Regions from separate parts of the Homo sapiens genome. Here all the other regions are linked to region 2. Evidence: fine-mapped expression QTL. A gene starts in region 2. Each other region holds a variant in brackets. All regions are shown on one strand. Distances are from middle to middle. Region 1 overlaps MNDA (myeloid cell nuclear differentiation antigen). Region 2 holds the start of PYHIN1 (pyrin and HIN domain family member 1). Region 3 overlaps PYHIN1 (pyrin and HIN domain family member 1).

Evidence for each region. PIP is the estimated chance that this variant, and not a neighbour inherited with it, causes the effect. A credible set is the group of variants that fine-mapping cannot tell apart.
Region 1: its variant is the best candidate, but not a certain one, in a credible set for the expression of PYHIN1 in whole blood (INTERVAL, PIP 0.74).
Region 3: its variant is the best candidate, but not a certain one, in a credible set for the expression of PYHIN1 in whole blood (TOPMed, PIP 0.74).

The regions. Positions count from the first base shown.
Region 1 is chr1:158,845,302-158,853,508 of GRCh38, forward strand. It overlaps MNDA (myeloid cell nuclear differentiation antigen), which reads left to right. Exons shown (of 7, transcript NM_002432.3): 5 at 286-702; 6 at 2,427-2,615; 7 at 3,889-4,201. The coding sequence ends at 3,936. Among named protein-coding and RNA genes, the nearest start is that of MNDA, 18 kb to the left of the region's middle. The variant T/C (reference allele first, on the strand shown) is at 4,322.
Region 2 is chr1:158,927,785-158,935,991 of GRCh38, forward strand. PYHIN1 (pyrin and HIN domain family member 1) reads left to right here and starts at 3,768. Exons shown (of 9, transcript NM_152501.5): 1 at 3,768-3,992.
Region 3 is chr1:158,974,389-158,982,595 of GRCh38, forward strand. PYHIN1 (pyrin and HIN domain family member 1) reads left to right here. Exons shown (of 9, transcript NM_152501.5): 9 at 2,313-2,671. Among named protein-coding and RNA genes, the nearest start is that of PYDC5, 24 kb to the right of the region's middle. The variant A/G (reference allele first, on the strand shown) is at 4,336.

The sequences.
Region 1 (8,207 bases), 82 kb before region 2:
ATCTGGTCTCACTGCAAGCTCCGCCTCCCAGGTTCATGCCATTCTGCTGCCTCAGCCTCCCGAGTAGCTGGGACTACAGACGCCCGCTACAACGCCCGGCTAGTTTTTTTTGTATTTTTAGTAGAGATGGGGGTTTCACCATGTTAGCCAGGATGGTCTCGATCTTCTGACCTCGTGATCCACCCGCCTCGGCTTCCCAAAGTGCTAGGATTACAGGCGTGAGCCACCGCGCCCGGCCTCCTGCTCAAAGTTTTAAGTTTATTTTCTTGTGTCTGCCCAACACAGAATCAGGAAACCCAGGCCCAACGGCAGGTGGATGCAAGAAGAAATGTTCCCCAAAACGACCCAGTGACAGTGGTGGTACTGAAAGCAACAGCGCCATTTAAATACGAGTCCCCAGAAAATGGGAAAAGCACAATGTTTCATGCTACAGTGGCCAGTAAGACTCAATATTTCCATGTGAAAGTCTTCGACATCAACTTGAAAGAGAAATTTGTAAGGAAGAAGGTCATTACCATATCTGATTACTCTGAATGTAAAGGAGTAATGGAAATAAAGGAAGCATCATCTGTGTCTGACTTTAATCAAAATTTTGAGGTCCCAAACAGAATTATCGAAATAGCAAATAAAACTCCCAAGATCAGTCAACTTTACAAGCAAGCATCTGGAACAATGGTGTATGGGTTGTTTATGTTACAAAAGGTAAACCCTTAATTTTGTTTTAATTTTCTCTACCATTACCTGGAAATAAATGTCTTAATTTGCCAGACTTACTGTCTGAATATTGGAACACAAGAATTTATATTGACTAGAGATAGTGATGAAGTTGTCCCACAAAATAGGAAATAGGACTAAGTGACCTATTAACTTTCTTACGCCAAAATAAATGTAGGGACTTTGAAAAAAAGTTAGTAAGAAATATTGGCAGTAATGATCTGTTGTCAGCCACAATGAACTAGGACAATACAGGGTCCAAATCAACGGGAGCAAGCTAATAACATCATCTCTTTCAGCTCCATCCCAATGAGCACTGATAATTTTACTGTGAGTTTTGATAAATTTATTTTAAGTAATGAATTGTGCTACCAAGGTTGAATTCTGGTTGTGACATAATTTTGGAGTAATAAGTGGATTGGCTGGTATGCTCATAAATGCAAATACATTCAACAGCTATCCATACAATCTAAACATTTGTGCTTAGATCAGTTGCCCTTCTATCTTATTTATTTATTCATTTATTTATGAAGATAGCATTGAACAACTGAGAAATATTGAATTCCATGATACTTAAAGGATAAGGCAATCTCTTCATACTATTTACAAAAAAAAAATAATTCCAAGGCACAGAGTTTTATTGATATGTCCATGTCCAAATTCAAGATGCTAGTTAGGATAATGCATTCCATCCCTTTCTCCACTCTAAAACATTACACATTTCTATGAACTCAACTAACATTTTATATGATTGACTGCTTTATAACCCTACATACATGTCTTTCAATATAGCCCCTTAAATTTACCTCCACATTTTCTCACACTCTCTTTAAGAGATCTTGCTTATAAATGCAATTACAGAATTGATGAGTAATAGCTTAAGTGTGTGAAACACTACAGAGTATGAATGGAGGGAGTTAGGTCAATGGGGACAAGATATTGGAAAAGAATAAGTAATGAGGAAGGCTGAGAAAGAATGAATGATTGTGTTATAGAAGATTTTTCCTTTAAAATTTCTCATAATCTGAAGTAACTCAGGAGTGGAAAACCAAATATTGTATGTTCTCACTTGTAAGGAGGAGCTAAGCTATGAGTACACAAAGGCATACAGAGTGATCTAATAAACTTTCAAGACTCAGAAGCGGGAGGCTGGGAGGGAGGTGAGGGATACAAAACTATATATTGGGTACAATGTACACTACTTGGGTAATGGCTGCCCTAAAATCTCAGAATTCACCGCCATATAATTAATCCATGTAACCCAAAACCATTTGTACCCCAAAAGCTATTGAAATTTTTAAAAATTAAAATAATAATAAAGTGAAATTCCTCATAATCTACTGAATGAATAATTGTAGAAAGCATACATTTGTTTTTCCACAGGACCATGAGCCAAGAAGTTCTATAGGAATTTTTGATTCCTCTATATCTAGGTGCTTTATTTACTCTCAGCTGATCTGAAGGTGGTAGCAGGAGAAAAAGAGGGAAATATTTATTGTTGTATAATTGCAGAAAGAAAAATACCTTAAGCAGGAAAAAAAAATGCTGGATAATAAAAGATGGACCCTGTGAGATGGCAGGCCAAGCCACATGTATGATCTGTACCTGTCATTCCTGTCGTGCATATTGCATTAACTTTGTCATGAGACTCTTTCTCATCTATATGATACTAACAATCCTCTCAGAAACAGGATGTTAATCTTCTTTTGCAGAAAAGCGTACACAAGAAGAACACAATTTATGAAATACAGGATAATACAGGATCCATGGATGTAGTGGGGAGTGGAAAATGGCACAATATCAAGTGTGAGAAAGGAGATAAACTTCGACTCTTCTGCCTTCAACTGAGAACAGTTGACCGCAAGCTGAAACTGGTGTGTGGAAGTCACAGCTTCATCAAGGTGGGAACTGGATAGAGGAGAATGAGTTTGCTAAAGAGGCAAATAATTTTGCTTAGGCTTTGGGAACACCAGGTTCCTCATGTATTACTCAGAGAGTCCAGCGAGTGGAAGGAGAACCTAAACAATGCCCTTGCATTTGTAACTGGAAGATTTTCAGAAGGATATTAAGGTAAAGGCATTCATACAGCTCTAGAAAGGATACAATACTAGTGTTAATTGATTTAAAGATGTGTCTAGCGGCAGGGAACATAGGGCTCAAGAGCAAGGGTTCTGAATAAGACAGATCTGATTTGAATCCTGGATTTAAGAAGCACTAGTTGGCTGATATTGGGGAAACAGTTTCATTGGTCCTCTAAAATAATGGAAGTCTCCACTTCATTGGGATGGTTTAAACATTCAGACAATGTATACATATTAATTATCTCACAACCTGGCACATCATAATAAACTGATCTGTGGTAGATAGTTTTATTTTTAGGAAGGTAAAAATTGGAGGGACTTTTAGGCAAAGGAAATGATACATGAAAATTCCAAAAGTGTGACATAGCGTAATGAGTTCTGTACAACTGAAATTCAGTAGATGCAGAAGACTGTGGGACCCAAAGATTAAAAAAAAGGGACTACTGAGGCCCAAAGATGAAAAAGAAATAGAAGTGTGGCTTTTTCAAAAGTAAATTAATGGAAACTTTATTGTTGAAAATACATGAAAAATTGAAACAAAATTATGCAGAAGAATGCCTGATCACTTTGATATTTTAGCAAAAAATATTCCGGTGTCTATCTATGGAGTTGCATTACAGAGCAATTAGGCTTGGGGCAGAGATATCTATTAGAAGTTGTGTGCTGGATTCACTCATATCCTTACTGAAGAGAGCTTACTGTTGGAAATTCAGGAATTATATGCACTGCTTGCTAAACATGTGGTAGTTTGAAATCAGCCATGTGAAAATATGTATGCCACCAGACTCTGCAAATGTTACAAATCGAAACTTTTAAAAAAAAATGGGTAGTTGGTTAACCAGGATACCACAGAAGTTTATTTCAAAAATCCATTCAGGAAGGAAAAAGACAAACAGAGATTAGTTAATGGGGGGAAAATGAGTTTTTTGAAGGTAGATCTTCATAACTTTGTGACTAACGAGCTTTCATAGGGGATAAGGAGAATAATGTAGCCAATGGGAAGAAAAGATATGGCAGGTGAAAGGAGAACTATAAGCAGAGCTTCATTTCAATATCTAGGGTCTCATTATGTCTTTCTTATCTCTCTTTAAAGGTCATCAAGGCCAAGAAAAACAAGGAAGGACCAATGAATGTTAATTGAAATATGAAAGCTGAAATGCAACAAACAACTTCCGCTTAAAACAATTAAGTTGTTAATAACTGTGATTTTGTAAATTTCAGTAATTCATTTAAATGATGTTTCAGTAGATATATTCTAGCATATTAAGAGCTTTTATAACTGAGTTATAGATTAGTTTGCTTTCTGGAATAAAATTTTCTTCTTATACTCTTCCTTTTTTTTAGATATTACATTTTGCTTTTATGACATTCACGAGGCAAAAAATAAAATATCTTTTTTTGAAGGACATTATTTTCCCAAAGTCTTGTCTACGTTCTGTTAAGATCAATAGTGAGCTGCTTGAGGCTGAGTACTTTGTGCATTGTGAAGCACATTCTAGAGATGGGGAGAGACACATGGGGCCTTA[T/C]CCACATTGGAGTCTATATTGTGATCTTCAGAGGATAAGTCCGCAGTAAAGGCTGTGACTAAATTTATGTAGCCCATGCTTAAATGAACAAATACTGTGGCCTAGGGAAGTAGCAGATCTAGAGGAAAGGATTCCTTTATGCAACTGTGTCCTCCAGAAGGGGGCCGTTGGGGTAATTGGTTTCTCTGAAGGGGACAACAACGGTGATTTGCATAAAGGTACCAATATATGCAAGATGCTTTCCCCTCCTTATTTGGTGTGGATTATCATATCCATCATATTCCATTTTTCTGACTTGTAGATACATCTACATATGTATTCAAAATCAGAGCAACTAAAAACATAAAACAAACATTGACAGTTCTGAGGGGAGAAATATACAGCAATGTAATAGTAAGAGACTTTAGTACTCACAATAATGAAGAGATTATCCAGGCAGTTATTCAATAAGATAATAGCAGACATCAACAACTCAATACACCAACGGACCTAACAGATATAAACAGAACATTCTACACAACACCATCAAAATACACATTTGCCTCAAGTATGCATGGAGCATTGACCACAACATGTCACATTCTAGGTCACAAAACAAGTCTTAATGAATTCCAGAAGAATAAAATTATAACGAGCATCTTTTCTGATTATTATAGAATTAACCTAGATATAAATAACAAATAAACAACTGGAAAACTGACATATATGTGAAAATTTAAAAACATGCTTCTGTATAGCCAATGGATCAAAGAAGAAATTAAAAGGGTAATTAAAAAAATGAGACAAATGAAAATGAAACCACAATATACTAAAATGTATGAGATACAGCAAAAGGAGTTCTAAGAGGAAAATTTATAGTTATAAGCATTTACCTTAAAAAAGAAAGCTCTCGAGTAAACAACCAAATGCCTCAGGGAACTGAAAAAAAGAAAAACAAAGGCCAAACCTACAAAGACTGAATTAAGAAGAAACAGAACACCCGAAAAAAACAAATGACAAACAAGGAGATTAAATCAGTCATCAAGAAACTTCCAACAACAACAACAAAATGCCAAAAACCTGATCACTTCAAGGGTGAATTCTACCAAACATTTATGGAATAATTGACTCCAATTTTTCACAAATTATTTCAAAAAAATCAAAGAGGAGGGAACACTTTCACACTCTTTTTATATGAAGTCAGCAATACCCTGATAGTAAGGCTGCACAAGAACACTACAAGAAAAAAATATATATAGGCCAATATACTTTATGAGCATATGTGAAAAAAATCCTCAACACTAGGAAACCAAATACAATGGCACATTAAGAGGATTATACGCTATGATAAAGTAGGATCTATCCTTGAGATATAAGAATCATTCAACATATGAAAATCAGCCAATCTGATACATAATGTATGTTAGCAGAATGAAGGACAAGAAACATATGATCATCTCAATCAGTGCAAAAAAAAGCATTTGACAAAATTCAACATCCTTTCATGGTAAAACTTATAGACAAATTAGATAAAGAAGTAATGTACCTCAACACAATAAAGGCCAATTATCACAAGTACATAGCTAACATCACACTCAATGATAAAAAGTTGAAAGTGTTTCCTCTAAAATTAGGAACAAGACAAGGATGCCCATTCTTACCACTTCTATTCAGCATAGTGACAGAAGTCCTAGCCAGAGCAATCAGGCAAGAGAGAGAAGTAAAGGCATCTGAATAAGAGAAGAAGAAATCAAATTATCTCTCTTTGCTGATGATATGATTCTATACTTAGAAAATTCTAGAGACTATGTCAAAATGCTACTAAAACTGATAAAATATTTTAGTAAGCTTTCAGGGTACAAAATTAACATACAAAAATTAATAGCATTTCTATACACCAATAATACCCAGGCTGAGAGTCAAATCAAGAACACAATCCCATTTACAATAGCCACAAAGAAAAGGAAATATCTGGGAATACAGCTAACCAGGGAGGTGAAAAATCTCTACAAGAACTACAAAGCACTGCTGAAAGAAATCAGAGATGACAGAAATAAATGAAAAAATATTTCATGCTCATGGATTGGAAGAATCAATATTGTTAAAATGACTATACTGCCCAAAGCAATTTACAGAGTTAATGCTACTCCTATTAAGCTACCAATGTCATTCTTCACAGAATTAGAAAATGCCTATTTTAAAATTTATATGGAACCAAAAAAGAGCCCAAATAGCCAAAGCAATCCTAAGCAAAAAGAACAAAATTGGAGGCATTACATTACCCAACTTCAAACTCTACTATAAGACTACAGTAATCAAAACTGCATGGTACTGGTGCAAAAACAGACACAGACCAATGGAGGAGAATAGAAAATTCTGAAATAAAGCTGAACACTTATAACCATCTGATATTTGACAAGGTGGACAAAAACAAACAAGAGGGAAAGGACTCTCTGTTCAGTAAGTGAACTCCCTATTCAGTAAATTCAGTAACTGACCAGCCATATGCAGAACAATGAAACTAGACACTTACCTTTCAACATGTATAAATTAACTCAAAATGGATTAAAGATTTCAGTGTAAGACCTCAAACTACAAAAATCCTGGAAGAAAACCCAGGAAATACCCCTCTTAACATCCACCTTGAATAAATTTTTTAGTTAAGTTCCTAAACGCAATTGCAACAAAAACATAAAATGATAAGTAGGATCTAATTAAACTAAAGAGGTTCTATGCAGCAAAAGAAACTGTCAACAGGGTAAACAGAGAATCTACAAAATGGGAGAAAATATTCACAAACTATGCATCTGACAAAGGTCTAATATCCAGAATCTATAAGGAACTTAAAATAACAAGCAAAAAACAACAAACTCCATTAAAAATGGGCAAAGGACATGAATAGTCACTTATCAAAAGAAGACATACGAGTAGCCAACAAACATATGAAATAATGCTCATCATCACTGTTTATCAGAGAAATGCAAATTAAAACTACAATGAGATACTATCTCACACCAATCAGAATGATGATTATTAAAAAGCCAAAAAGCAACAGAGACTGGCAAAGCTGAGGAGAAAAGAGAATGCTTATAGAGTGGTGGTGGGAATGTAAATTAGTTCAACCACTGTGGAAAGCAGTTTGGAGATTTCTCAAATAACTTAAAACACAACTACCATTCAACCCAACAATTTCATTACTGGGTATATACTCAAAGGGAAATAAGATCATTATACCAAAAAGACATGTGCACTTGTATGTTCATTGCCACGCTATTTACAATAGCAAGGACGTGGAATCAACTTAGATTCCCATCAGTTGTGGACTGAATAAAGAAAATATAGTACATATACACCATGCAGTATTATGAAGCCATAAAAAAGAATGAGACCATGTCCTCTGAAGCAACATGGATGGAGCTGGAGGCCATTATCCTAAGCAAATTAAGGCAGGAACGGAAAACCAAATATTGCATGTTCTCACTTATAAATGGGAGCTAAGCAGGGAGTACACATGGACATAAAAATGGAAATAATAGACACTGTGGAGTACTAAAGAGGGAGAGAGAGGGGAGGATGTGGATTGAAAAACTATTAGTTGGGTACTATGCTCACTACCTCACAACGGCAGCAACAAATAAACTATAGCTAATTAATGTTGATGAAAGACTACCTTCTCGCCGTTTAGGATCAGCAGCAACAAAAAAAGGTGGATGATCACTTCACTTCTATCCTACCATGTAGCTGAGGTTCTTATCTAGTATAACAATAAATAAAATAAAAAAAGATTAGAAAAGAATTGTTTGTCTATAAACTCTATTCATATATGTTAATTATCTGCAAAAAATTATAACAAATAAAATAAGAAAACTACTAAAGTAAAATTAATCAAGATAGAAAGTGAGATCAG
Region 2 (8,207 bases):
AAATGGTAATAAAAAATTATGAAAAATATTATGCAAATAAGTTTACTTACGTAATTCCTGTAAAACAAAAATGTATTACAAAAAAAATCCTGTGAAACACAACTTACCAAAACTGTCTTGTAAGGAAATAAAACAACTAAATATTTTTATATCTATTAGAGAAAGAGAAGTTGTAACAAAAATCTTTCCGTAGTGAAAGTTTTGGGAATAGACACTTTATGAATTCCATCAGACATTTGAGGATAAAAGTTTACCATGTCTATACAATCTGTTTTAGAAATGCCAGTTTGCTGTCACACCAAAATTAAAGATATTACACAGAAACTAAACAAAAACCAACTCTCACATGAAAATAAATGCAAAAACACTTTTAAAATATTGAAAAATTATACTTACCAATATACTTATCAATATGACAGAAACTAAACAAAAACCAACTCTCACATGAAAATAAATGCAAAAACACTTTTAAAATATTGAAAAATTATACTTACCAATATACTTATCAATATGACAGAAACTAAACAAAAACCAACTCTCACATGAAAATAAATGCAAAAACACTTTTAAAATATTGAAAAATTATACTTACCAATATACTTATCAATATGATAAATTATAATGCATCATTAAAAGTGTTTTATCTCAGGGATATAAGATTGGTTCAACATTTAAAACTCAATCACCTTTCCCTCTTCCTTGAGAAAGAGAAATCTATTTACTTGAGAGACAAAAGGAGAAGGCACCTGATTGAGGTGGCTGATGGCCATGAATGCATAAAGCAATCTTGCTAACTGAGGCTCTCAACAAATGGGTTTTGTTCTGACTCTTAGGGATAATTAGAGAAAGGTTTTAACACTCTCCATTTCCATTTTCCTCTCTGAGATCACAATAATTATTACAAGGCTTTATCCAGGGGTTTACAATGGACTTTAAAAGTCCCAAACGTGGTTTCTTGGTGTGATTGTGTAAGAGAAAAGCTTCAGCTGACTTAAATTTAAAAGAGTTTAACTGAGCAGTGAATGTTATTCAGGCAGCCTCCCAAGCCAGAGTAGGCTCAGAGACTCCAGCACAGCCACATAGTGGAAGATTTATGAAGAGAAAAAGAAAAGTGAGATACAGAAAATGGACATGAGATAAAGAGCTGGATTGGTTATAGCTCGGAGTTTGCCTTATTTGAACGCGGTTTGAACAAGTTGGCCACATTTGATTGGCCAAAACTTGGTGATTGACACAAGCATATACTACAGTCTGTTTACACTTCCATTTAGGCCATCATTCACGCTGTATGAGAAACCTTTAGGCTGAACTTAGAATATGTAAGAAGGCAGCTTTAGGCTAAACTTGATTTAACATTGCTTTTGATTTAACAAAGCAAAAATAAAAATAAGTAATTATTTTTGCTTTTCTCCTTAGAGGCTTTCTGCCGTCTCCTAGACTGACGACTGGGTACAGATTGACAAACGTTTTCTATAATAAGCCATACAGCAAAATCTTTACACTCTGCAGCCGGATGGACTCTGTTGCTAGTCAACTCTTCATTGCACCATGAAGTAGATATTGACAATGCATAAGTGAGTAATCACAGTTGTGTTTCAATAAAATTTTACTTACAAAAGTGGATGGTGTGTTAGTATTGTCCCACAGGCAGTAATTTACTAACATCTTGGTTAGAACATTAATCGGGTGGGAACTTTTCCTGAGGACTTTGAATGAGCATCGGAATTAGTACTTCAGATGATAAAAAGTCATGAAGGTCCATCCAAGACTTTTACCCCCTTATCAGGAGCTCTCGTATGTTCTATTAGTGAGCTTTCTGTGTGATGGCACAAATTGCAAATTATTGCCCACTGCTTCAGAATCAGCACAAATGCACATTTTTAAAGCATTTCTTTGCTTCATCTATTACAATTTTATCTGCACAGTATGGATTATGGAGCAATGTTCTGAATTGTCTTCATTGGTGACAGTAATTTGTATGTTGTATGCTGGAGTCCTAACCAAAGGCATTACTCTACATGAAATGATTACCAAAAAGGGGAAACAAAAATGTCCTGAAACATGGTAATTTCTACCAAGTTTCCTCTACTCTCTGACCTTTGAATTGGGGTAACCTGACCTTCCTAATATCCCTCTCTACCTACTATCTTAAGACCAACTTAGTGTCTCTACATTAACAGCAACGTAAACCTATAAAAGAAAACCATGAACACTCGAAGGTATTTTTGTGGCCATCCTTCCAGATCCTCCTTGCTTTTTCTTAACTTACTTTTGCTTTGATAAAATTATCATATGGCTCCAAATCCAGACATCAACTATCCTCTCCATGACCCTAGTTTGTACTAAGGCGATCAGCTTTCTTCTGTTCTGTAGATGGCCTCAGATCATTTGTATTATTTGTGAAGGAAACCAAAAATACTTCTCAAAATACTTAGGACTGTTAAGTTAAAGACAGAAAATGGAGGGGAACATGCTGCCTCAGGCACTATTTGCCTGATGGCAGGACATAAATCCGTATTTACTGGAGAAAGCACTTGCTTTTCAGCCCGGAGAAGGCGCCACCAGGAACCTGAGGAATCTGGGAACAGATTTTACTACCTTCCCACGTTTTCCCACCTTTTAAATGACTGGAACTGCTTTCTCCTTTGCTTTTCACTATATAGAACGTATGGCTCTTTATTGAAATACTATTTAAACAAGGTTTCTAAGCCACAGCCTGGAGAGAGAAATACTTTTGAACTGAGGCCTATCCCTTGTGATGAGTAGAGCACACATTAATAAACTGCTTGTTTTTCTTTTGTTAATTTGACGTTTGTTTTCAGGAGAGTGTCAACTAATAACCTAAAAAGGGAAATTTAAAAAAAACTTGTTTTCTCCCCTACAGCTGTATTTCGGGCCCCATTTTCCACTCATGGCCACATCCTGCTTGCAGATCTGCTGCTGGGTTAACACAACATCATCTGCCAGTTGGTGTCGTTTATTTGACATCTTGGGGTTTTAGTACTCTGAAGGACACCCACTGCCCTTAACAGAAAAAATACTGCTGAGCAAAGGGTTTAACAGGACTCTCGGTCTACCAGAAGTTCAGTGCATTTTCCAGGATTTTCAAGGCTTCGATGCTGTCATGTTGTGAGCCCACTATCCACTTGTGTTTTTCCATGAATAATGAAGGAAACCTGAGGAATCATGAATGTAATCATTGAGGTAAAATAACCTAGTCATAGTCAAGAGGACAGCTAGTGTTAAACTCCTTTATATATATTTGAGAAAGGATTTATATATTCATAATAACTTTCTGATCTGGAAAGCCCTAGGTTTGTCAACTATTAATAACTGGGTGAATGCTTCAGGTAGTATTTAAACCAACTGCTATTTCATAGCAGACATTCTCCCATGCAGGAGATGCAGTAAAGTACTGGTAGCAATAGATGCTCCTACCAAGATCTCCCCCTGCAACCGCACAGGAAAGGAGGGAGAAGAAACCACCTTGCTTCTCTCATATTTGACAATCATTCATCGGAATAGAGGTCCCTAATGTCCCACATGTAAGTCTGCTGGTTAAGAAAGTTCTAAGATTGGAACTCCATTCAGATATCAACATTTGTAAGAAAAAAAATTTTAAATATAACTTTGATACAAATTTTACTTTGATTAAGATACCTACAGGAAAGAAACTGTTCATTTTCTCTAACAGGATGGAAAGCAAAAAATATGGGTGGGAGGAGTCTGCACGTTGTTTCACAACTTCTCTCTCCCCAGGGCAAAGCAGAGTATGAGGAAGCCAGCACTAGTCAAGTGACTCTAAGAAGGGCCATTTTCCCTTGTTGTCTTTGAAAATACTTCATTTTCTTAGCATTTCAGGAGATTATAACATCCTGTATTTCAGTTTCTGAGAGCTTTACTGACTGATTTCCCTATTCAAAACAATCCTCATTTCCTACATTTCTGAAGATCTCAAGATCTGGACTACTGTTGAAGAAATTCCCAGTAAGGTGAGTACTGTGGGTATTTTTTATAGAAAAGATCTAGATGCTTCCTTGAAAGCCACAAAATCACAAGGGAAAAATCGATATTGGTTCTTCAGGGCAGTGGGGTGAGGGCAGTAGGGCTGGTATCAACTATATTCAGAAAAGTGAAAACTGCAGTTAATACTTCCAATTCTTTACTTACTTCAAAGATAGTAGATATCCTTTATTCTACAACTGGGGCATGAATGAAGGAATATGCATTTTGACCATTGCAGATTTTAAAACAAATTCTCTGAGTATATATTCTCTGAGGTTAGAAAGCTTGGTGGCCATTGGGGTCTGGGCAAAAGACAAGATAATGATTTCATTCTTTTTTATGGATGCATAGTATTCCACGCTGTATATGCATAACATGGATACGGCTAGAGAACATTACCCTAAGTGAACTAACACAGGAATACCAAATACTGCATGTTCTCACTTATAAGTGGAAGTTAAACATTGAATCCATATGGGCACAAGATGGGAACGGTAGACGCTGGGGACTGCTTGAGAGGAAAGGTGGGAGCAGTATGTGGGTTGGAAGGCTATCTATCTGGTACTATGTCGCTACCTTGGTGATGGGATCACCAGACAACAAGCCTCAGCGACACACAGTTTACTCATTTAACAAGCCTGCACATGTACCCTCTGAACCTAAAATGAAAGTAGAAGATAAAATAAGACAAGATAATGATGTGCACAAAGTATCAGGAAATAATATTAAGTAAAAAACACATCTAGACATACAGCTGTATTTTACGGTATCTCAATTTTACAAAACATGTTCTCACACAAAAACATATGTGAGAACATTTTGTAAATAATATTATTCTACAAGTGCAAACACATAGTAGAAAATGTATCCATTTTGCAAACACAATTATTCAAATAATTCAAATAATTCAAATGTGTCAATATTTTCATAAGTATGTTTAACTTTTACATTAGCATCATTCTATACCAGATGTGAAAGGCAGTTTTTTATTCATTTTAAGATTACTTCCTGCCCTCCTGAAAGTTAATGATGTTTTATTTTTCTAGTGGCAATGTATAGGGGAGAGGCATGGAAGTCAATTTGAAATAGATTTATATTGTCAAAGTTCAGAATTTTTAGAAGACTTTCTGTATAGCCTGGTGCAATATCTCAGTGTACTTGACTAGAATATGAGATTTTAAATGTTGATTTCAGGATTTATATATGTTAGATAAATATTGCTATCAATTATGTTGCTCAAATTTGTAAAAATGTTTTTTTACCTTGTTCATTTAGTATTGGAAGATATAATATAGAACCTCCTATTATAAGACGGTATTTTCTTGTACTCCTCTCAAATTCATATATATAATATATAGATATGCTCACATGCATAGTTGTATAATGTATATTATGTGTGTATGTGATCATGCATACATGTTTCCAAACATAAACATACACATATAAATATATATATTTGTGGCACCGTGTACATATGTGTGTATATGAAGATAAATATATTATATAACATTATATTATCATGAAGGACTATACAATAATGAAAAATAATATACATTTATTATTATTAGATAAATCTATAATTTAAATTATTGTATCTTCCCAGGAATTCAACCTTTTACCATGTGGTATCTGATAATACTCTTTGTCTTAAGATCTTTTAAAAATGATTCTAGCATAGATAAGCTGGCTTTCTTCTAGTTTCTCCTTGCATGATAATTTAAATTTTTTTTCATCTTTCAGTGATCTTTTACTGACAACATACATATAGAAATTTTAAATCAAATTTGATAAAAGTTGTCATTTAACTAGTTAACCTCTTTATGTATAGGCTAATAATTAACATATTTTGGCCTGCTTCTGCTATCTTCACTTCAATTTATAACACTTCTATATTCTCCTACTTGTCTGTTTTTAAAACTTATATTTCCATCTCACCCTTTAAGACAATTACATTAGTAAACTCATATTCTTTTTCTTCCCTCCCTCCACCATGTTGGTATACTTTCTGTTTCTCTTTTCTTTGATCAGGGCTTTCTTTTTAAGTCATAGGCACACATAATCAAGTTCGTTTTTCATTCTTACTTGTCTTTTGGCCTGCAGCTTTTTAAAATTTTTTTTTAATTTTCTATTGAAAAGTACTTCCAAAAATGTTTCTGTGTGCATCTTTGTCTGGAAAAACTACTGAGGCCTTCAGGTTCAGAGAATAGTTTTTGAGGATCTTATGTTTAAATATCACTTTGTTTAGATTGAAATTCTAGTTTTAAAATTATTTTTTCCTTCAAGACAAGATGAGAGCATTTCTTTTGTACCTGGGGGGCTCGGTATGTTTTGAAAATCAGAACTTGGAGGTTTATAAAGATTACTTAATGCACATTTTTCTAGAAACCCCAGTGTTATCAGTGTCATTACTACAAAAGCAAAAGCACTAATATTTCAGCATCAAAACATATGAATATTTGTGTTTAAGTGGAATAAATAAAAATCATACATAGCCTTCTGTAAGCTCACATCTGGTTTCATTTTGCAAATAAATCGTGTTGTCATACTCACAAAACAAATCAAAACTTCCCATTTCTAAACTTTTTGTTTAGCAATTTATATGGGACTTTGGGCCAGCATTATATAAAAATGATTCCATTCTCCTCTTTCAAGTAGATTTGTTGTTGAGAATCAGTTTCAATCTAATTTTTGGATCTTTGCAGGTGATCTAAAGCCTTCATTCTCGGAGGCTTATGGAGTATTTATTTGTTTTTTATGTTCTTCAGTTTCACTATATGTCTTTGTATATATTTTTTCCTTCATTCTATGCTTATCAATCTGAGGACACTCATGTTCTCTCAAGAAGAAAGCAATTAACAGCCCCAGGAATTTAAATATCTAAATTACACAAGAGGTACACAAATACATGTTTTCTATAATTAAAATATTTGTTTTTGTATTTATTTTTATCGAGGTGGAGTTTTGCTCTTGTCACTCAGGCTGGAGTGCAGTGGCATGATATCTGCTCACTGCAGACTGCACCTCCCGGGTTCAAGCAATTCTGTTGCCTCAGCCTCCTGAGTAGCTTGGATTATGGATTACAGGCACCCACCACCATGCCTGGCTAACTTTTGTATTTTTAGTAGAGACGGGGTTTCACCATGTTGGCCAGGCTGGTCTTGAACCCTTGACCTCACATGAACTGCCTCCCTCAGCCTCCCAAAGCGCTATGTTAATTTAAAAAGGAAACAGGAATCCATAGCATGCTTTGAGTGTCATCATGTGCTAAAGTGCACTGGTGCTAAAGAGGTCCAGAGGAGTAACACTCTGTCCATAAGGGCACTCTGAAAATTTCTAGAAGACAAACTCTCAGTTGAGTCTAAAATGTTGTAGGAGAGGCAGTCAGATAGAGGAATGTGGGAATGGCTTTCCAGGCAATGAGAAGAGAATTAGCAAAGTCATGAAGCATGAAAATGTTTTATACTTCTGAAATGTAAGATATAAGGAACACACAAGTGCCAGAGGTTAAAAAAAAAAAAAAAAAGAATGCAGATTATTCAAAGTCTTCTGAAACAATACAAGAAGCAAGGAATGTATTGAAAAGAAAATGGGCAAATATTGAAAGATTTCAGTGGGATAAAAATGTGGTTTATAGAGAGAAATGTGGATCTGTGAAATGAAAATGAATTAGACAAATCAAGCCTAAAAGAAAAATCAAGCAACTATTGAAATATTCCAGCCAATAAATCCTGTGTTCCTGCAATAGAGAAAATGTAGATGTTCAGGAAAGTGATAGTTTTATGGGCACAGAGGACAAATATGGCAGGGTCCAACACCAAGGAAGAGGATACTGATGAGAGCTGACAAGAGAAGAGTTAAGGAGAATAGGGTCGGCGCCCCAGCATGAAACTGTAGTGCTGCGGCAGAAAGTTATTCATATAAGGTGGGAGGCTGCAGCCCATTTACACCTAGGCCACTCCAGTCATAGTGGTGGGTGTGGGAAGATTTAAGAAACAACAGGCAGGTTTTGGGGGATAGGCTCCAGCCCCAGTAAAGGATGGGAAGAGCAACCAAGCACTTTGACACTCCACAGCCCATACTCTAAACACTGAGACAATTGCTTGTTCACAGACCTCCCTCTAACACCTGGACCCAATTCAACTATCCTCATTCAATGGGATGAATTACTTGGACATTCCTAAAGCAAAAGTTCTTCACTCAAT
Region 3 (8,207 bases), 47 kb after region 2:
TCAACCACACTTGATAATAAGTACAGTTTATAGATTTCTTGTCCAGAGAACATCAGACAAAGGTGAACTAATGAATTTATATCTAAGTGTTCCAATTGAATCCCAGCCTGCTTTTGGTCATGATATGACCAGTGGAGTCACCTCCACCTAGGGAACAGAAGACTATGATCTACAGTGAGAGGGAAGGTGATGAAAGAGAAAGGCAAGAGGAGAATCATGTCACCACTCTTTTAGTTGAAGACATGTCACCATACAGACTAGTTGAAGACAGATTACCTATATACAGGAGTTCTCAATTTGTGGTCGTTTTTTGGTTTGTTTATGTTTTTGTTGTTTTTGATAAGCCCGAGAATCACATTTTCCTCAATAAATTATATGTAATTTATTTGAGAGTCAAAGCTAGCACGTCCTCTTTAGCCATCTTGGCTTAGGTGACCATGGATGGAACGCATATGTAGTCATTACCAGCTCAGACCCACTTTTCTGTTACTTAATAGACATAATTGAACATCCCAGGACAACATTCTGGAAAAGAACTTATTTTTCCTGCATTTTGGCTTTGAAGGGACTACGCAAAGTTTGCCTAGGTTCTACCATTTTAAATACGCATTATGGTCTGTTTCTATAGCCGTTAGATTTATTTGACTGCATCTAAACCTCCCTTAGCCCAGGAATCTCAGCTAGGGTCCTATGTCTCCTACACCTAACCTCCCATATAGCCATTTCTTCTTTGATATCTAGCACTTCCACAGGATGCCTGGAAAATACATCCTGTTACTTCCTCTGTGATTCACTAGCTCTGAAAGAAGTCCTTGCTTTTGTATATCATAGATCATCCCAATAATACTGTGTTTGTATTAATTATTAATTTGTATAAATTTTTCTATGCTTTTGGATTTAAAGTCAAAAGCAGACCATTCTTATTTTTCATCTTTTGTCATGACTCTCCTAAATCAAAGAGCCCAGAATGGTTGGGAAAACAAATGGAGATATTACTGGCTCAGAATTACTATATGGGAAAAAACGAAGCTATTAGTTTTATTCCCAATCACTACAACTTTATCTGGGTTTTCCACAAGAGGATCAACATAAATCATAATTCATTTCTGGATCAGGCTGACATAAAAAACTTGCATAGTCTTTAAATAACAATGAAAACAATATTTTTCTAACTGAGCTTCTACTGGGTAAAGCTGGAAGTGAAAGTTATGTTTTTATGTATATGATTGCATTTACTCTTCAATACACCTCTTATGAGCACAGTAGAAAGACCATGTTCCAGGGAAAAAACGTGTTCTGCTCTAGACAAGTTAAGTTTGAGATTCCCACAGGACATCTAAGAATTATCCATCTGATATATAGAGCTTAAACTTGGGTAATTTTGGCTGGGCCTTTTACTGAATTACATCAATAGAGACATAGTTGTTAAAACAGTGGATGTGACTAAAAGTACCTAATAGAATGGAAATAATGATGTCTCTCATTTACTGAGTATGCAGAATGACTCAGACTATTCTAAGGGTTTTTCAATAATTATCTTCATTAATCCTTTATAATCCAATTGTTTCACATATTAGCTCATTCAATTATTTGTGGTACACAATGAACAGAAGAGGGAGTTAAATTTGAGGGTGGCCAACATACCTCATAACAGTCCTAAATTACCAAGGATGTCCCTAAGCAAATCAGAACACAAAGGTAGCTGTCTTTTGTGAGAAACATCTCTGTGTAGACAGAGATGGTTGGATCTACATGACAAAGTTTATGCTGTTTGTCACATATATTCATGTGGGATTCTTGGAACAAATAAAGGCTAATATTGGAATGCAAAAAGATCAGAATAAAGGCTAACACATTCAGACACACAAAAATGCAAAGGCTTTCTGATTGCTCCAGTTCTCAGGGCCATTAGTCAAAAGTCCCAAGCCTTCCTTGACAGCAGTTGCACCAGGAATACATTTTGTACGCTCCTCCTACCTTTCTGCCCAATGAGAAGTTTCCCTTTAGCCCTTGTCGTTGGACACACCAGCTCCTTTCTCTATCTTATTGTTCCCTGACATCTCCTGCCCTTTCACGTGGGCTCATGCTGGGTAGGAGTGAATATCGCATTTCATGGTCCCAACAGAGGGGGAAGATGTGACTCCAAGGACAGGATTCATTAAAGGAGATAGATGAGAATGAGAAAAGAGTGCTTCAGATGGAAATAGAAGAAGAGATGTGGCTCACAGGGAGGAGAGGCAGTGTGATTGAAGAAAGAAATGTATGACTCCCTGCATCTCAACGGGTTTATTTTTATCTCTTTATGCTTCAAGGTCACCAAGGACAAGGATATCAAATAACTACTGTTCAATCTTTACTCAAGTGTGGAAATTTTGCCTGAAGTCCTCCACCTAAAAACCTGATGCCATTGGTAATGATGTTTATGAAGATAAGATCAAAGCACAGAAAATAATATATGTATATATATCTGGTTGAAATACTATATATATATATATATATATATATATATATATATATATATATATATACCAGCTATTAATTCTAGGAAATGGAGTATTAAGGGTGCATTTTATTTCATTAGTTTTACTTTTATGCATTTTCTTCATATCATATTTTGCATTCAGAATTTTCATAATTTGAAAAAAAATAAACTTTTTTTTCTTAAAGAGTGCTTCCATAGGAGTTTCTTTAATCTATCTGTGAGTTATGTAAAAGCAAATAAACTGTGGCCTGCAAGTCAGGGTGGGGCACACAGATTTATAGTTTGGATGGGATCTTTAAGGAATAGGCCCTGGTTAAGACTGAACTGACTGTGCCCTGCCCAAAGAATCCAGACCAAGGGGCAGGTAGGGGTGAAATCCAGCCTGTGATTCTGTTGCAAGCACTGTGTCCTGGGAAGGAGTTGCTCTAGCCAAAACTAGAGATATCTTTTCAGAATTGGACTCCTGGAGGGGGAATAATTGGGTAATTTTCTTGCCAAACCAGGCACTTTCTGGTGATGTGCATGAAGGCACTTGCCTATGTTAGAGGAATTCCTGGCCCTGTTTGATGTAAATTATCTGGTTCTATACATTTCCTTCAGCACCAACAGCTCCTCAGGAGCTCTCCCACCATATTCCCTCTTCTCACATTCCACTATATGAATCCATCAGAAAGTTGCCCAGGCAGACAGTTAACTTAGGCAAACTGAAGAATAATTAATTTATTTTAGAGTAGAATGGCAGAAAGTCAGTATCTAAAACTTACAATGTATTTATGGATCATATATTTGGCACCTGGTGTAATTATTTTGTGTCATTTAATCTTCACCGTAGCTCTAGAAGGTTGACAGTTTTCTCCTTTTTACTCTCCATATATAAAGAAAAAAGGGCACAGAAAGCAAATTTACTTTCGAAGTGACACTTAGGTGGTCTTATATAGTCCTTGATTTAACATCCAGGTCTGTTGTTCTGGCTTGGGTTAGGTGTGCTAATGTTAGGAGAACAGGGATAAGATGCAAATTAAACAATGAATAAGACGGATTCCACCTAAGATGGAGAAAGCTGAAAAGAGCCTCACTCTCACCCTTAAAATTATGAAAAAGTAGATAAATGCAAAATAGCAATCTTCTGTACTCATCAGAGAACTGTGGTGATCTGAAGCTATATATGCCCAATTAATCTAAGGAAAAGAGGCATTAAAGTTCTGCCTTTATGGTTTGGACCAACAATCCAAGGAATAAATGTAGTTTTTTTTTCCTCTTGCCCTGCACCTTTCCGATTATGTCTTTTATCAGACATAAAGGTAAGAAAGTATGATAGATTCAGATACCATGAATAAGTTTTTTCAGACATTCTTTATTGCCAAATATCATTGCTAATATTCATATGTGTGTGTGTGTCTATACATATATATATATATATATATATATATGATAATTTGGTTCACTTGGGAAAATCAAATTTTGAAGGATGTTTTGAAGCCACCGAATTTTTTCCTCATGTGCAGTGAAAAAACTGAAATTCAGAGATTGAGTGAAGTGGTCAAAATCACATCATTCAGCTAGTTAGGAAACAGATTTCATCTTGAGAAGATGTCACAAACTGCTAAAACATCCTCCAAATTCAAATTTGACTTATGGACACTGAGAAAATAACTGCTTTATATGCAAATGATATTGGTATTCTGAGCTACTCAAATACATAATATTCATATTACTTTACATAAACTAGGTATAATGGACCACTCTTGAGTATGTAGATGATGGTAATTAACAGTTAGAGAATGGGTCATTTAGGTGCTTTGTCTAATGTGTTTGCTGATTTCTCCCTGAAATTTTAACTTCTAAGGACAGTC[A/G]TGTCTGTAAATGAGATAGGAAAGAAATTATCTTCCACCCGAAAGAATTAGCCTGTTCACTGTGTTTTAATTTAAACAGCGTCAACCTCTAATGCCTTGACCCCACTCTATCTTATATTTTTATATCTTACTACACATCAGAGCTCCTACTTGGGACCACAAGTAGGTGAGAATCTGGGGCTTCCCCTAACTTTGAAATGTGTGAACCAAAGAGAAAGACAGAACAGCTCACAGAGATCTAACCTACCCTCATAGACATCTTAGAGATCAGTTTGTACCAAGTGGTTCTCTGCAAGAGGCAGTGAAATAGCTCTGAGAGGATCTCTAGTGTATTAGCAAATGATTATGATTGGAAGAGGCAAATCCAACACTGTTAGCAACATTATTTCTCTAAAACCACATAGTGAGGCATGTATTAGAATTTTATGATGATAAGAGCACGTGAGATCAACCACTTAACAAATTTCAAGTTTACAATACAGTATTAGGAACTATAAGCACAGTGTTGTGCAGCAGATCTACAGAGCTTATTCATCTGGCATATCTGAAGTTGTATACCCATCGAATAGCAGCTTCCATTTCCCCCTTCCTCCAGCCCCAGCTAACCACCATTTTATTTTCTGCTCCTGTAAGTTTGGCTATTATAGATACTCTACATAAGTGGACTCATGCAGTATTTATTCTCTTATGAGTGGCTTATTACACTTAGCATAATGCCCTCAAGTTTTATTCATGCTGTAACTATTGCAGAATTTCATTCATGCTGTAACTATTGCAGAATTTCCTTCATTAAGAAAGAATAACATTCCATTATATATACACACCACATTTTCTTATCTATTCATTCAAAACTGGGACATTTAGGTAGTTTTCACATCTTGTCTATTTTGAATAATACTGTAATGTACATGGGAGCGCTAGTAATATCTCTTCAACTCCTATTTTAATTATTTTGCATAAATACCAAGAAGAATAAATCTTGGGTCATATGGTATTCATATTTTTTTCTTCCAACTTTTATTTTAGATTTAGGGGCTACATGTGCAGGTTTGTTACATCAATACATTACATGTTGCTGGGATTGGCATACAAATGATTTTGTCACCTAGGTAGTAAGCACAGTACCTGATAGGTAGTTTTTCAGTCTTCACCCTCCTCCCACCCTCGACCTTTAAGTAAACCACCAGTGTCTATTGTGCTTCTTTTTGTGTCCTTGTGTACTCAATGTTTAGCTCCTACTTATTAGTAAGAACAAGTGGTATTTGGTTTTCTGTTCCTGTGTTATTTTGCTTCAGATAATGCCTTGCAGCTGCATCTATGTTCCTGCAAAGGACATGATTTGTTGCAGGAAGTCAGGGACCCCAAATGGAGGGACTGGCTGGAGCCACAGCAGAGGAACATAAATTGTGAAGATTTTGTGGACATTTATCAGTTCCCAAATAATACTTTTATAATTTCTTATGCTTGTCCTTACTTAAATCTTTTAATCCTGTTATCTTCATAAGCTGAGGATGTATCTTATCTCAGGACCACTGTGATAATTGTTAACTGTACAGATTGATTGTAAAACATGTGAGTTTGAAAAATATGAAATCAGTGCATCTTGAAAAAGAACAGAATAGTAGCGATTTTTAGGGAAGACAACCGTAAGCTCTGACTGCCTGCGGGTTTGGGCAAAACGAGCCGTATTTTTCTTCTTGCAGACAGCCTATAAATGGATGTGCAAGTAGGAAAGATATTGCTAAATTCTTTTCCTAGCAAGGAATGTTAATATTAATACCCTGGGAATGGAATGCGTTCCTGGGGAGAGATCTATAAATGGCTGCTCTGGGAATGTCTGACTTGTGCAGTTGAGATAAGGACTGAGATACACCCTGGTCTCCTGCAGAACCCTCAGGCTTACTAGGGTTGGGGAAACTCTGCCCTGGTAAATTTGTGGTCAGACCGGTTCTCTGCTCTCGAACCCTGTGTTCTGTTGTTTAAGATGTTTATCAAGACAATACATGCACCGCTGAACATAGACGCTTATCAGTGGTTCTGCTTTTACCCTTTGTCCCGTTCCCTCAGAAGTATGTGATCTTTGTTAGACCTTTACTAGTGGTTCTGCTTTTTGCCCTTTAAAGCATGTTATCTTTGTACCTACTCCCTGTTCTTACACCCCCTCCCTTTTGAAACCCTTAACAAAAACTTGCTGGTCTGAGACTCAGGCGGGCATCATGGTCCTACCGATACATGAAGTCACCCCTCGTGGCCCAGCTGTAAAATTCCTCTTTGTACTGTCTTTATTTCTCAGCTGGCTGACACTTGTGGAAAATAGAAAGAACCTACATTGAAATATTGGAGTCAGGTTCCCCCAGTAATGATTTTGTATTTTTATGGCTCCGTAGTGTACCATGTTGTATACGTACCACATTTGCTTTATCTAAACCACTGTTAATGGCCATCTAGATTGATTCCATGTCATTACTATTATGAAAAGTGCAATAAGCATACACATGTACTTTGGGAGGCTGAGGTGGGTGGATCATCTGAGGTCAGGAGTTCGAGACCAGCCTGGCCAACATGGTGAAACCCTGTCTCTACTAAAAATACAAAAACTTAGCCTTTTGTGGTGGCAGGCACCTGTAGTCTCAGCTACTTGGGAGCCTGGGGCAGGAGAATCGCTTGAACCTGGGAGGCAGTGGTTGCAGTAAGCCAAGATTGTGCCATTGCACTCCAGCCTGGGGGACAAGAGCGAGACTCTGAATCAAAAGATAAAGAAATAAATAAACAAACAAACAAAGAAACCATATACAAGCACGTATCTTTTAGTAGAACAATTTATATTCCTTTGGGTATATACCAGTAATGGGATTGCTGGGTCAAATGTTAGTTCTGTTTTAAGTTATTTGAGAAATCTCCAAACTGTTTTCAACAGTCGCTGAAGTATTCAGCAAATAGCATCAGGATCACTGGCTAGCTGTATGAAGAAAATTAAAACTGGACCTCTTCCTTTCACCATATAAAAAAATATGGCATATAATTGGCATTTCCACCCTCAATGTATAAATGTTCCCTTTTCTCTACAACCTCACCAGCATCAGTTATTTTTTGACTTTTTAATAGCAGCTATTCTGACTGGTGTGAGCTGGTATCTCCCTGTAGTTTTGATTTGCATTTCTCTAATGATTAGTGATATTGAGCATTTTTCACATGCTTGTTAGTTGCATGGATCCTCTTTTGAGAAAGATCTATTCATGGCTTTTAACCATTTTTAATGAAACTGTTTGGTTTTTGCTTGTTGATTTAAGTTCCTTATAGAGTCTAGATATTAGACCTTTCTCAGAAATCATAGTTTGCAAATACTTTCTCCCATTCTGTAGACTATCTTTTTATTCTGTTGATAGTCTAATTTGCTGTACAGAAGATCTTTAATTAGATCTCACTTGTCAATTTTTGTTGTTGTTGCTACATTTGCTTTTGGAGTCTTTGTCATGAAGTCTTTGCCAAGGCTAATGTCCAGAATAGTATTTCCTAGATTTCTTCTAGGGCATTTACAGTTTTAGGTTTTACATATATAAGTTTTTTTTAACTTTATATTGAGTAGATTTTTTATATGGTGAAAGGAAGGGTTCCAGTTTTAATTTTCTGTATATAACCAGCCAGTTATCCTGACACTGCTTGTTGAATAGGAAGTACTGTTTCCATTACTTGTTATTGTCAACTTTGTTGAAGATCCAATGGTTGTAGGTGTGCAGCTTTATTTCTGGGTTCTCTAACCTGTTCCATTGGTCTATGTATCTGTTTTGTTCTAGCACCATGCTACTTTGGTGACTGTAACTTTGTAGTATAGTTTGAATTTGGATAGTGTGATGCCTCCAGCTTTGTGGTTT